2 linked regions of the Homo sapiens genome follow. The protein of the gene in region 2 purifies or fractionates together with the protein of the main gene of each other region. This does not show direct contact. Each region holds a gene or a part of one and is shown on either strand. Other genes may lie near its edges.

What was found.
Region 1: the proteins of SLC35B4 (region 2) and COG5 purify together in Homo sapiens (affinity purification with mass spectrometry; one large-scale study listed by BioGRID and IntAct). This does not show direct contact.

Annotation. Positions count from the first base shown.
Region 1 is NC_000007.14:107,557,421-107,560,920, forward strand, and holds part of COG5 (conserved oligomeric Golgi complex subunit 5), read right to left. Parts: intron 696-3,500; coding exon 556-695; intron 1-555.
Region 2 is NC_000007.14:134,296,431-134,299,930, reverse strand, and holds part of SLC35B4 (nucleotide sugar transporter SLC35B4), read left to right. Parts: intron 1-332; coding exon 333-408; intron 409-3,464; coding exon 3,465-3,500. UniProt on the Homo sapiens protein: Antiporter that transports nucleotide sugars across the endoplasmic reticulum (ER) membrane in exchange for another nucleotide sugar.

The DNA of each region.
Region 1 (3,500 bases), about 27 Mb from region 2:
CTTATTCCAACCCATCTGATAGATTAAAAAACAAAAAAGCAAGACTCAAAGACTTTAAGTGATATTAAAGTCAGTTAACAACAGCATAGCTGAAATTAGGACCCGTCGCCTAACATCTCATATTGTATCCTACTCACAATAACATTTATCAACTTTCTGTAATTTCAGCAAATGCTACACTTTGTGCTAATAAAGTATGAATTGCGAATGTAACATCCCAATTTTTCTTATTCATATTGTTTTACTTCCAAAATTCCATTTTCTATTATCTTTATCGAACACATCCTATTTTTTGCCCACTATATTCGTTGCACATCAGTTAAGGTGGTGAACAGGAAGTATGAATGAAAGGCTTTGGTGAGGTGGTATATTAGTTTTTCCACAAACAAAAAGTGGTTTACAGAAAATTTCAAAAATTTACTTTGAAAAATAAGTCACACTGGTAAGTATGTACTTCTTCATGTAAATATGCATTTGTATTTAATAAGATTACAAAAATGCTAAATTATCACTTTAGGCTGAATAATCCATAGGGACCCAGAAGATCAGAATTACCTGTAAGTGTAGTTCTCTGTCCAACTGACTGATTCCTTGGGCAAGTTTTGCTAGTTGTTCAGCAATTACAGCTTGATGAATAGATTGAGAAGTATAAGTCTTTACATCAAAGTCTTCGTTTAAAAAGTCACTATAACACCCTGGATTGGGGAAAAAATAAGGAAAAGTCCTTAATTACCCTGTACTAAACCAGTTATTAAACAACAGAACAATTATAATCATAATTAACATATTTTGATCCCATACTCTGAACCACTCCACTATACTGCTTAATGCTTACTTTTATCATGACCCTAAAGGAAGTATAACATTGAGAAAGAGATTAAAAAACATAACGACTGGCCAGGCACACTGGCTCATGCCTGTAATCCCAGCACTTTGGGAGGCCGAGGTGGGTGGATCACCTGAGGTCAGGTGTTCAAGACCAGCCTGGCCAACATGGTGAAACCTCAAACCCCATCTCTACAAAAATACAAAAATTAGCTGGGCATCATGGCGGGTGCCTGTAATCCCAGCTACTCGGGAGGCTGAAGTGGAAGAATAGCTTGAACCCGGGAGGCACAGGCTGCAGTGAGCCGAGATCGTGCCATTGCAATCCAGCCTGGGTGACAGAGCAAGACTTTATCTCTGGCCGGGCGCGGTGGCTCACACCTGTAATCCCAGCACTTTGGGAGGCCGAGGCAGGTGGATCACGAGGTCAGGAGATCAAGACCATCCTGGCTAGCACAGTGAAACCCCGTCTCTACTAAAAATATAAAAAAAATTAGCCGGGCGTGGTGGTGGGCGCCTGTAGTCCCAGCTACTCGAGAGGCTGAGGCAGGAGAATGGCGTGAACCCGGGAGGCGGAGCTTGCAGTGAGCTGAGATTGCGCCATTGCACTCCAGCCTGGGCGACAGAGCAAGACTCTGTCCCAAAAAAAAAAAAAAAAGACTTCATCTCAAAAAAAAAAAAAAAAAAAAACCATAACTACTAGCTATAACTATTAATCCAAGAAAACAAGATCATTGTCAGTGAAAAGACAACAGGAAAATTGACTCTATATATATATATACACATATGTAATATTTATGGCCTCAGATATCTCTAGATCAATACACAAATACTGTTATAGCAAAGTGAATCTGGAATTTTAGTAACAATAGGAAATATAAATTTATAGGTGTTACTGAAATTTAGGATTTATGGGTGAAATATGTTAATGGAAAGAAAAGCTGTTTAAAATAGGCCCCTAATAGACAGAAAACAGAAGTAATACCAGATGTTAAAAAGATACCCCTCAATATAGAAATCCACAAATATGTGGATGAAAGAAAAATTAAGAGAATTGAAAGCTAAAAATAGATACCCAGAAGGGAGCTCATGGTAACCATGTACCAAATCTCCTAATGATACAGTAGATACAAGTAAAGCTGCCTTGAGAGAGATTATGAAACAAACAAAATAGAGTACTTTTAAGAAAACCTAAATTGTCTACATCTGCTATAATGTATGCTCCAAGAGGGGAAGAAGGTCTTTGTTTTGTTTGCTAACTCTTCTCCAGTGTCTGAACAATACCAGACACATGGCAGGTTCCATGAATTAACTAATCTATACATCAGCTGATGTATCATTAGTATCATTCTGGTAACAACCAACAACAAAAAGTAAAGGCTCATACTCTTGATTATTCTTAAAATGTAGTGGAATGAAAGAAGGAAACTGCTACTTTGGCTGCTTTTAAGTCTGAGAACCACATTTCCTTCTGATTTGCCAAGTGCTTCTCAGAATTAAGAGTCCTGTCAGCCAGACAAATGAAAAAAGCCATTCCAAGCAAAGGGAAGGTTTAGCAGTGGCAAATGCCATGGCATATTTTGAGAAACAAGGGGAATACTGATTTCAGTGTGTCTAAATCATAGCACATGTATATTGGACAGAAATGGTAAAGAATGACAGATGTGGTTCCAAAGGTTGGAGCGCAGTTTGAAAAGAGGTTTGTAAGACATTTGAAATGTTTAACCATATCTCATTTAACCCAAGAAATTGCACTATCAGCTTTATGTTACAGAACAATAATCCTGGCAGCTGTATAGAGGATGATGGAAAAAGGATTAGTCACACAGCAATGTGCTGAAGTTGCCTCTTATTGGCTCTTGAGCACAGACTGTTACATTTTCAGGAATTCTGTGAGCCAGTTGACCTTTCACACAGATATCTTAAAATCTACGATGGTGAGAGTATTTACACCATGGTAATCAGCAAACACTACAAAAATCAGGGCTTTTTCTATTTTCCCACAAAGCCAATTAACCAATACACCCAAGAAATAGAACCACAGAGGCCAGTAAAGTACTATGTTAACAGCCTAAGACATAATGAAGGCCCGACTAAGACCTGAATAAGTGGCACTAAGAATGTCAAAGTGACAAATTTGACAAATATTCACACTGCACAGGATGTAGGACTTAGTGACAAGCTGAAAATGGGTGATTAGGTAGAACAAACAAGGATTCCCAAATTTCTGGATTAAGCAACTGATACAGGAAATTTAGTTTTACACTAACTTAGACCACTAGACACTGAATATACCAAGATGAACATAAACTTCTGCCTCCAAGGAATTCATAATTTACAAGGGGAACAAGCACACATTTACCTAACAACATAGTAAACACAGATAACAGAAACTACCAGAGGAAAAGATTAGGAGAGAAGAACAGAAAAAGTGAATTCATTTCATTTTTTCATATGTAAACCTTGTACTATTTGTTCATATGTAGGTTTTCATGTGTATTATAGAACTAGCACTGCTTGTTTACTATCAAAATAGAAATGTCCATACAGGTTATGGAATGGCATATCATAAAAAAATTAAGATAGAAATGTCCAGTAGGCAGTTAAAAATATAGTTTTATAATTCAGAAGACAGGTAAGGAGCATACTGAAACCACAGACAAGACCAGATGATT
Region 2 (3,500 bases):
CTGCATATTTAGCAAATCCTTTTGTGCAGAAAGACTATATGTTTAAATTTCTCCATTCCCTGTTGTTGAGGAAAGGATGCTGGCTCCATTGTTTGCTTTGTCTGTGATGGCCCTCAGACCCTATAAGGGCAAGAACCATAATTTGGGGGTTAATATCCTGCCATACAAGGTGAAGTGGTCAAGAAGCACTGTATACATTTAACTTAAGTCTAACTTGCTTTTCTTTGTATTGCTGTCAAACAACCTGTACGACTTTTAATCATTGTAAAGCTACTCTAATTATTCTATAATGTTTTTGCACTTACATTTATCTGACCTGTTTCTTTCCATAGCACGCCCTTCCACTTCCGGGTTTCGTCTTCTTGGCTTCTGATATTTATGACCATGCAGTTCTATTCAATAAGTCTGGTGAGTTTGGGGTTAGACAGTAGAATTACCTGACAGTTTCTGAGGCAGAGTCTCAGTTTTACTCTTGACTTGACCTCGGCCTTTTTCATAATCCTATTCAAATCATGTGTTCCTTTCGAAAATGTCTCCATTCCACTTTCCAGTCATTGCAGCAGCAAAAGCTTTTACAGGGGTTTCTCAATTATTTACAAATGAAGTAAAAGAATATCTTCGAGTTTTCCATTTTGCTTTGGAATTTGTGTGTTTGCATTTGAATGTGAAATGTTTGATGTTTTGAGAATGCAAATGAATACTTACAGCACACTGCAGAGACTGGAGCCCTGCGAAGTTGGGCAGCCGTCCAGCTCTCTCAACTGCTGTTTATCCTTCTCTGCCATGAAAGGCAGAGCTGCTCACAGATCCAGCCCAAGCTGCCATGGAGCAGAGCAAGAGGGGAGCTCAATGATGACAAGGTTTTTCTCCTAGTTACAGATGAGACAGGCAGCAGATGAATAAGCAAAATTAGTTTCAAGCGTCTAGTGTAAGTTAGCTGTTACTTTTTAAACTGGCCAGTTAATAAATTAGCTATAGATTGTCAGTTAACTTGAAAGGGATCACTTGTATGATCTGATTATCTACTAACAGAGTATAATATAGACACATTGAACACACAAGGAACAAATAAACGTTTTTAAAATCAAGGCTTTATGTTGCACACACCTCAAATGCTTAAGTGCATTTTGTAGAATGACAGTAGGTGCTCAGTAAACATTTGTTTGCTATCTGAGCATGAGTTGTGAAGTTATGACTATTCTCTGCATTTATAGTGTTGCCTCTCCCATTTGCCCCATCCCCCAAAAAATGTGAAGGTAGTGTGTAAGAGTTTGTAAGGCTCTGAATTACTCAAATAATCATTTCTTCATATTAACACAACAGTTTTTAAGATCTCTGAGAAGTCCCACGTAGCAAAGGGCTATTGAAATAAAAATGTTGTCAAATTCCATGTGATTGATTTAGTTGTTAGAATGCTGCTTCTAAAAATCACAGGGCTAGGTATTTATGATAAAATGTTTTACAGAATCTGCCTTCAACTTCTCCAGAATCATTTCCAAGTTAAAGATACATTTTCCTTCTCTTGCTTTCCTTGAGATTAAGTTTCTGAGATCCGTGAATTTTCCAAGAGAGCTAAATATCTGTCAAAATATTTTAAGTGATATTCATTGTCTCTTTCCTTCAGAGATTCAGTGTATCTCTGAAGTTATTAAAAAGTAATCACGTTTGTTAACTTCCTTTTCATTTCAATACTTGCTAAGGATATCAAAGATAATAGAATACCAGATTATTGGCATTGCCCACTGATCCAGAACTAAGTTTCAAAAATTAGTCTTTATGTGTATGCGTGTGTATGTATATATGAGACATTTTATTCGTGAAAGAAAATTAATATTTCTTACCAGATCTCAGCATCATTGTATCAGAATTTCTTAAATTATGCTGTATAATTCAAAACCTGAAAAAAATTTAGTAATACAAAAAAACTGAGCCATTGAGGATTTCTATGTCTGTATTCTCTTTCATCTTATTTCCTCCCACAAATTTACTGTGCAAGTGTCATTATATAAAGCTAACATAAGAGTGAGAGTGTGTGTGTGTATGTGTCTTTTAATAGAGACAGGACCTCCCTGTTGCCCAGAATGGTAGATTGGTCTCGAGCTCCTGGGCCCAAGGGATCCTCCTGCCTTGGCCTCCCAAAGTGCTAGGATTACAGGCGTGAGCCACTACTCCTGGCCTAAAACTAATGTAAGAATATATTTAAAGTTATTCACAGTTCCATCAACCTGGACATCTGCCAATTTTATTTTTATTGATTTTCTTCTAGACCATGTCTGTTTACAGAGATTCTTACATAGCTGTAATCCTTGTGTGGATATAATTTTATATTTGTTTTTTACTTTTTTTCTGAGTTTTTTTTATGTGGCTATAAAATCTCTATGATTTTTGTTTTTATCAAATGTACAATGCCTCCTCTAATGAAAGTGCCTTTGTTTATGTAGCCATTGCACCATCATTGGGCATTTGATTTTGATTCAGAGTTATTCTTTATTATGTATAGTACTTTAATGAGTGCAGAACCTTTTTCTTCCTTTGAATTAAACTAGGATTAATTCTGAAGGATGGGTAGGAATACTTTTATAGACCCTTAATAAGGATTATGAAATTGATTTTTTTAAAGAATGACGCCAAGTTATACTGCCACCAACCTGTGGCTGCCAGTTCCATTACCAACTTGCCAGATTAAGATATTATTTATACATTTTGAATTGGCTAGGCGCAGTGGCTCAAGCCTGTAGTCCCAGCATTTTGGGAGGCCAAGGCAGGCGAATCACTTGAAGTCAGGAGTTCAAGACCAGCCTGGCCAACATGGCGAAACCCCGTCTCTACTAAAAATACAAAAATGAGCCAGGTGTGGTGGTGTGTGCCTGTAGTCCCAGCTACTTGGGAGGCTGAGGCACAAGAACCACTTGAACCTGGGAGGCAGAGGTTGCAGTAAGCTGAGATCATGCCACTGCACTCCAGCCTGGATGACAGAGTGAGACTCTGTCTCAAAAATAAATTAATAAGTTTTGAATTGCTAATTTTGTAGCTATAAAATGGTACAGTCTTATTTACTTTGGAATTCTGTAATTACTAGTGTGATTGAACATACTTCCAAACAGTAGTTGCTAGCCGCCTTTCCTCTTGTGTTGAGTTGTTAAGGCTGTCTATATCATTTTATCATTTTCAACTTTTCTGTGCTTCACAGTCTTTCTTTGTAAAGTGAGGTACTATTCAGGCAAATGGTAAAACACTTCCTTAAAAATTAAAACTATTATTTGTTTTAAGAAACCAATTTAATGACTTTAGTGGCTGCTATAGCCTGGAGTCAAGGCAAGTAAAGTGATGCGTGATCCAATTCTATTTGCAAGGAAGACAATGTTGCTGTTCCTATTATGTTCAGTCTGTATTACCCTGTTCAAAAGATGAAAAATTCAGCTGTGAAAAAGCAATATGGCTATATCCTCTTGTAACCTCTACAGAGTTATATGAAATTCCCGTCATCGGAGTGACCCTGC